Homo sapiens: one gene and its partner. The protein of the gene in region 1 interacts with the protein of each later gene in a biochemical or structural test. Each region holds a gene or a part of one and is shown on either strand. Other genes may lie near its edges.

What was found. Proteins that work in one complex are often made in the same cells at the same time.
Region 2: the proteins of CNOT4 (region 1) and CNOT2 form a complex in vitro, tested with the Homo sapiens proteins (one study listed by BioGRID).

Annotation. Positions count from the first base shown.
Region 1 is NC_000007.14:135,387,767-135,391,934, forward strand, and holds part of CNOT4 (CCR4-NOT transcription complex subunit 4), read right to left. Parts: intron 1,129-4,168; coding exon of another isoform or gene 1,028-1,128; exon of another isoform or gene 1-1,027. UniProt on the Homo sapiens protein: Has E3 ubiquitin ligase activity, promoting ubiquitination and degradation of target proteins. Involved in activation of the JAK/STAT pathway. Catalyzes ubiquitination of methylated RBM15.
Region 2 is NC_000012.12:70,249,600-70,253,432, forward strand, and holds part of CNOT2 (CCR4-NOT transcription complex subunit 2), read left to right. Parts: intron 1-3,833. UniProt on the Homo sapiens protein: Component of the CCR4-NOT complex which is one of the major cellular mRNA deadenylases and is linked to various cellular processes including bulk mRNA degradation, miRNA-mediated repression, translational repression during translational initiation and general transcription regulation.

The DNA of each region.
Region 1 (4,168 bases):
TATCACTTCACATTATGTCCTAATAAAGTACTCCACTATTCTCTTGATTAAAATTATCTGTTACAATTTAGGTGGCCTAATTTTAGAGGACATCCAATCTCTTCTCTTCTGCCTTAGTCTCATTCTGGTCAGGTACTTATAATATTATCTTATTATCACATTTTAATTATTAAACAATGAAATTTCCAAAACAATATCCCACAGAATTACTGTTTGTTCAGTAACAATGTTACACTACTATGGTTGCTTTTCACATACAATGTTTACTCCGTATTCAAGTTTCAGATAAGTCAACTATAAACTGAAGTTCTGTTTTTGAGGCATTTCCTGGTATACTAGGCAGTGCATTAGAAAAGAGATTATATTGCATTTAGGCTACAATAATTATCTTTTAACCATCTATGCATAATTAACAACCATTCAAAAAGAAAGTGCAAAAGTGCAAAAGAGAGAGAACAAAACAGTTTCTACACATGTAATGCATATTATAGGATATAAATCTAGACAACTAAAAACAATCGCCAACAATATCCTTCTGAGCATTAAATGACACCACCAATTTTGTTTTATATGTATTCTTTCTTCTCAAGTATTCAAAGAATGCAATAGACATTATCTTGTTAATTTGCAAATTTTTCAGGAGATTAGGATATTATTTTTTCACAAACCAGAAAACAAGATACTACCATTACCTTTGTATAATTTTTCAATAATAGAGCCAAAATAACAACAATTCTAGCTAATCTCACCTGGGATCTTAGTACTACAAGTTTATTTTTATGAGTTAGAAATAGTATCACTCATGAGAAACAATGCCAAAATTATTACACTAATAAATTATGTTAAAGGCCTAATGAAGAAATACTTCAACAACTATGAGGTAACACGCTAGCTGTAGGCATGAGGAACGTTTATATTGGCTCTTCTGGGTGTATACATTAAAAGCAAAATCATAAAGGAATCATGCAAAAATCCAGTTGCCCATGCAAGCACCCCAGAGTCTAATCCTCTCCTCTCAGTTCTGTTGTCAGGCCACAGTAGTGTGGAGACTTGTAGGCTGCTGTCCTTGTTGTAATGAATGGGAAGAGGTTGACAGTGGCATGGTCGAAACCTTCACCTCTTCTTCCCCTGTGGAAAAGTCAGTCATGGTCTAGTTATGGGTGACTAGATTTGTTAACAGTCCCTTTAAAAATGATTTCAATATTTGGAATACTGATACATATATAAAATACATGCTTAATGTTTGGAATCCAGGTGTGAAACAAGACATGAATTTTAAAATATAAACTTATCAAGTACTTGGAAAGTAGTTATATTCTAAATATATCCTGAGTAATATTGTTTCAGAGATAAGAACAAATACAATAGATTTAGATTATAAACATACTACCAAAAAAAAAAAAAAAAAAAAAGACCAGGAAAGCCATTCTTTTCCAAGCCAATTGGACCCTTATAGATACTCCTAGTAAATGGTAAATATTAATAGTATTTTGTGAAAAAATTAAACCTTGATTTACAGAAGTGAAAACTGATTTTTAAAAGAGAAAAATTACAAATCCATGTTTTGAAAGCATAAATTATGTACTAGAAAAAAATGAAAGCTATAAATATTAACTAGTAAATTAACATACAGCATCTGAAAATTCAAGTTTACCTTTGAAGTAATTGAAAAATAGTAAAATGTTAACAGTACAATGATCCAATTGACTGAAAATGAGATGACTACTTCTAGGTCAGAGAATTATAGATGAATGAGATCGGTTCTCCTGATTATAACTGAAAATTATTTGACTACAAGTGACTTGTTTCACACATGACTCAAAATTCAATCAAGTCACTGTTAAAACAGTTCATATAGAAACAAAGAAAATTTAAAGAAAAATGCCCTCTCAAAAGTAAAGTTTAAATTAACAAAAACATGAAAAAAAAATCCAATCCTAAACAGTTTCAAATATTTTTTGAGGTATATCTTGAAACAACAATGCTTACTGACTTATGTTTTCCAAATAATTTTTAACATCATGGAATAAAAACAACTTGGCAGAATATTTTTTTAAAACAAATCTGCAAAATTACATGTGGAAGGATAACTGACAAAGCAGAAAAAGAGTCTGTCAATCCATATAACAGGTGATTTTGTAGTTTTTCAGTAAATTGGCAAAGATTCTTATAAACCCCAAGAACATAGCAATGAGGCTCTGTAAAGCAAATTTTAGACTAGAGTTCTTAGCAAGAAAATGATATTAATAAGGACTAAGAAACAGACTGATTTCTATCAAGTCGATACACTTTATTCTATTTTGTAACAATAGGCCATATACCCCTGAGCTGGGCCAATTTGTCTCATGAGTTGATACTGTTGATAAAAAGGGACTTCCAAGTGTGTGAGAGCAAAAACAATTGCCACGGGAAGAAAGCCAAGTTAAAGCACATGCCAGTGATCTTCATTTATGAAGGAGGGCATCGTTGTAGTGCAAAAACATTTCCATTGTTGAATTTGAGATCTAAGTTCTTACCCTAATTCCACTACTAATTGAATATGTGACCTTTAACAAATTATTTAAGCTTTCTGGAACACAGCTTTGCTATTCCTAAAATGAAGGAATTGGACAAAACAAAGTCACGTTTTAGGACAAGGTAAATCACTTTGTAGAAAGAAGGCATATGGTTCCAATAATAATAAAAAAAAAGATCTGAATGAATTTACTGTAACTGCCCACGAATCAAAATTTCCCCCAAGAATATTTATGTCAAAAATATTTCTAAACTTAGTAAACCAAATGCTGCTAAAAAGGTTTCACCTAATTAAGGAAATAACTACTAATTTTAAACACAAAAACAGTTTTCAATTAGATCAAAAAAAAAGGAAGCTGCATTTCTGTCAAACCTCTGGCAACTGTTTTTCCCATGATAGGTTTCAGATATATCAATCTTTAATAATTCACTGAACAAACCAAAAATAAAAATTTAAGTACAAATGTATAGTAAGTAGACATTCTATCTGTATGACATGTAGGTGACTGCCATCTCTGATTTGCTCTTACAGGTCAGAGACCATATTTTGCTCTACATATTTAGAGAATAAATATATATGCCTTTCCAGAGTGTAGAATTAGTTTAAAATATTGTCTAAGTATATCTTAAAGTAGCAGGTCCCACTGAAACAGGTATGTACTCTCTCCATTACTGAAGCATTTAGTGACAGCTGCCCTGTGTAAGGTATCATGATAACTGCTAAAAGATACAAAGTTGAATCCTTGCCAATAGTTCAACTCAGGTGCAAGTGAGTTAGAACAGGTGCAAGTGAGTTACAACAGGTGCAAGTGAGTTACCTAGGTATTAAATTGCTTCAAATTAGACATAGTTAAGATGTATATATAGTTTTCCAGATTTTCACTTTCTGTCATTTCTAATAGTTACTGAAAATCCTAAATCTTCTGGCTACAATTACACAGCTATTCTGCTCTGAGGCTTAGCACATTCAGTTTTCTGGGGCATCTACCAAATATTTATAATCCATGAGAGGATTCTGGTGTGTGAGACTCTTGATAAAAATTTTTAAATTTTGGTACATTAAAACTAAAATTTCTCTAGTCATCAGAGCCTTAAAAATAACCTAATAATAAGCTTAACCATAAGTCACCATTTAAATACCAAGCAAGTCTGCATAGCCTGAAATTGAAAATCCAAAATAAACTCTCCCACCCCCTACCAAATAGTACAACGATTCAGAACCTAAAGTTGGTGACTACATTTTTAGCATCTCTGAAAAAAAAAGGTTTTAATGCTCTATGGTTGAGTATATGGTAAAAGTTTTAAAAATTAAAACAAAATCCCCAAAGATAGGACCATAATTTAATGTCACATTTTTTCCATAAAGCATCTACTTTAGACGAAGATTTTAAATGACTAACACAAGGACAACTAAACTCACTAATCAGCGATTTCTCATTACCAGTGCAGCATTCTGAGAATAACTATTGGTTTGAAATATATGGGTTAAAACTACTCTTCAGTGTTAAGGGATAATATGATGACTATGAAATTGGAAGAAAATCAAAGATCGTCATGTAATAAGTCAAATAAAAGCACAAAAAGAAGACAGCTAATAACTAGAATCCCATAAAGGCATCCTACTTCCTATCATACCAAGTCCATGCCATTTTGC
Region 2 (3,833 bases), on another chromosome or scaffold:
TGTTTGCATCTGATCATCTTGCAGATCCTGGATATTTAATCAAATTGATGCAGAAGTTTGAAAGACAAGCAGCAGTAGGAAATTTTTGTTTCAAGCTTGACTTTTCTGACAATATCCAACAGCTGCTCATATTTTTAAAAATTAGAAACATTCACTGAGAAACGTTAAAAACTTAAAAGCAAATACTGTGTTATAATGAGAATAGGTAATAACATATCATTGATGCTACACTTTACATATTATTGCACCATTATTCTGAGGTAATCATATGCCGAACAGATTACTGCACAAAGTAATGCTTTAGGGGTGTAGTTTTTATGGGAATGAACATGTCTGGCCTGAAATTAGAAAAAAAATTGGAGCCATAATCTTTCTAATCTATGCTTGCTTATGAGAAATTCTAGGTATATTTATGTCAGGCCAAACTATTTGCTACAGCAAACCGGTTAACCTGACATCTGAGATAGTCTTTAAAGTGTTTAAGTTTGGTATACAATGCACTTGTGTGTGTATATGACTCATCCTAAAATGGATGGATGTGTGTAAAAAAATTGTAATCCAATGCTTAAATGAATTTGTGAAGCACAAATAAGTGAAACACTAAGATGTTTCAGAGCATAGTTTGAAAATCCCTGTGCTCGATCACCAAAGTCACTTCCAACAGTAAAATTCTGTGTATTTTAAAAGTTCTTTTTCTATTCCCTGCACATGCAAAATTCATATAATTTAGCTGCTTTTTAGTAGTATTTGGATAGAAATTGTTTATTAAATTTAAAGTTGAGGCTCTGCTGGTTATATGTTAGCACTCTAGATGTTTTCAAGTAAATCCTTTAGTAATATGAGTGTTTAGTCTCTGCTTGACATTGTTATTGGATATATGACGGTGATCCAGACAAGTCTCCACCTTCATTAATGTAACATTCTGGAGGAGGAGACAGACAGTAAACAAATAAATAAACATAATTTCAGGTAATGGTAACTTAGGAAAAAATAAAGGGGGATAAAGGTACAGCAATTGATTAGAAATGGAAAAAAGATTAAGTAGGGTGATGAGAGAAGACTTCTGTGGAGGTATCAGTTGAGCAGAAAGGAGTAAGCCATGCAGAAATGTGGTTGAATGGTTTTCCAGGCAGAAGTAATAGAAGGCCCTGAGATAGGGTCAAGTTTTGTATGTTTGAAGATAAGAAATTTCATAAACAATTACTTAGTGCTTTCTGCATAAATGGGGGTAAGCTCTAAAGGGGAGAAGAGGTGATTAAAGCATAATGATCTGTGTCTTTCACTTCAGAAAATATTGTGGTGGACCCAGTAATCTGTAATAGGTTTTACAAAGAGCAATAGGAAGGAGGGATTATTTTTTATTAAGGTGCCTTGAAATTGTTTTCTACATCAGATGAATTGCAGGGGTTGAGGGGTGGTCTGTCTGGAGTACTGGAAAATGACATAGGAAAGCAAACTGAAAACTTTCCTTAATTCATGTGTTTATGTAGAATAATAAAACCTATACTTTTCTTAGAAATTAGTAATAAGTTTCATATTTAATTAGATTTTCTTGTACAGTCCAATAAATGTTACTTTGTGCTGTGCACTATTATAGTTGCACTGCGTAATTCCTCAAGTTAAATTTTTGTCATACTGTAGAAACATCCTAGAGTAGAGTAACTTTGTTTCAGGGAGTTAATGAGTTGGCTTCAAGGAGGTGATAAGTGAGCTCTGGGTTCTGAAGGGTGATTTGTAGTTAACTAGGTGGGGGAGGGTAGGGAATCAGCATTGTAAATGCACAAATCCTAGGAAAATGTTCTAGATTTGGAGAATGGTGAGGTAATCCTCCATAGCCCTTGATGGAATTCTGGGACCTCATAGGAGAAGTTAGTTGAAGGAATGAAGTAGCCACAGTATGAGGTCTTATCTTTTATGTGATGAGGGAACCATTAACCATTAGGAGGGGAAAAAAAAGCCAGTGAGATTGATAAGCAGATTCGTGTTTCAGGGGAAAGTTTAGATTCCACAGTCGATTTACAATTAAAATTATAAGCTTAATGGTGTATGTTTATGACATTTTTGAAAGATTATTTTCTCTCCATTAAACAAATTGAGTACTTTGCATTCATATAAGCAGGATTTTTATTTGTTAAGAACTGTATGACTTTGAAACTCTGTAGTCTATCTTTTAGAGAACTTGTTATATATGTAAATGAATGCCAACTGTTCAAGATTTTTCCGTTACTGGGGTGGAATTTTTGTATACGTTTTGGGGCAGGCAAAGTTTGAGTATTATCATCTGATGTAATGTGTTAGGCATGAGATTTAACATTCTTGGATAAATTGAAATAATACCAAGAAAATCTAAATCAGTGATAAAATCCCTACATAGGTGCTGATATTTATGTTATGTTACTAGAAGTGCTTATTTTACAATGCTATGATATGTGTTTGTGTGTTTCTCAAAATATATAACACTTGGATATATTAGGTTGCTAGCATTATCTGTTAATTGACATGCAGAAACAAATCCTAAATTAATGTTTTTAAAGAGAAAGAATTGCTTCTCTGAGAATGTAGTTTCAGCAAGTTATTTTTATTTTTATTTATTTATTTCTTTTTTTGAGACAGGTCTCACTTTGTCACCCAGGCTGGAATGCAGTATCATGATCACGGTGCACTGCAGCCTTGACCTCCTGGGCTTAATCAATCCTCCCACCTAAGCCTCCTGAGTAGCTGGGACTACAGGCGCATGCCACCATGCCCGGCAAATTTTTGTATCTTTTGTAGAGACAGGGTTCCTCCATGTTGCCCAGGGTGGTCTTGAACTCCTGCGCTCAAGCCATCTGCCTGCCTCATCTTCCCAAAGTGCTGGGATTACTGGCCTAAATTATTGCTTTTATTGTATGCATTATATACTATTTTATCATAACAAAAGTTAATGGTTCAACTATGGCATTTAGAGCTGCCCACGTAGCCTGATTGTCTATTTAGTTCACTTTTGACTGAGTAAAATGGAGCTGATCTATCTGCTATTAAAGAGAGTTATATTCTGAAATTTTACATGATGTTCATAATGCCTGGAACTAACCAGCCTGAAATGGAATCACCGTTGTACTGTTTTCAATTGGCTAGGTGACTTATTCTCCCTATACTTCAGTTTTCTCATTTGAAAAATGTAGATAAAAATAAATAAATAAAAACAAAGAAAAATGTAGATAAATAACAATACTTACCCAGTAGAACTGATGTAAGGATTAAAGTTTTTTGTGGGTTTTTTGTTCGTGTTCGTTTTGGAGTGGGACTTGTTAGGTTAAAGAGGAGCTTCTGGGGTATACAAGAATTAGCCACAATTTATTTCATAGAGTGCACTATACTCTTTTTTGTATCAGATTCGTAAATGTAAACAAGAATGCAGTCTTGCTCTTAGAGTCTAAACATGTTTTTCCTACCAGGAATTTTGTTTAGATGACCTTCTGTGAAGTAAGATGTGTAATATTTTGAGTAACATAAATAAATCGTCATATTGCTCTGTCTGTAGTACTTGGCAAAGCACAGGGCACATAATAGGCATTTAATAATTCCTGTGTTAAGTGGGATAAATCTAATGGGTTAGGATTCAGACAGACTGGTGTCTACCTTTTTCAACCTGAATAGTGCAGAGTTAGTTACCTGTAGTAGTTTTTTCTTCTGTGCCTGTTTTCTTCCTTAAAATTAATAAAATATTTTCTTCCCTTAAGTGTATTTAGTAGGTTTAAATATGACCCTGTAAAACTCCTGACAAGTAGGTATTTACTGTTGTTGGTTCCCATGCCATTTCCTTTATTTAGAGCAAAAATTGCAAAAATCCT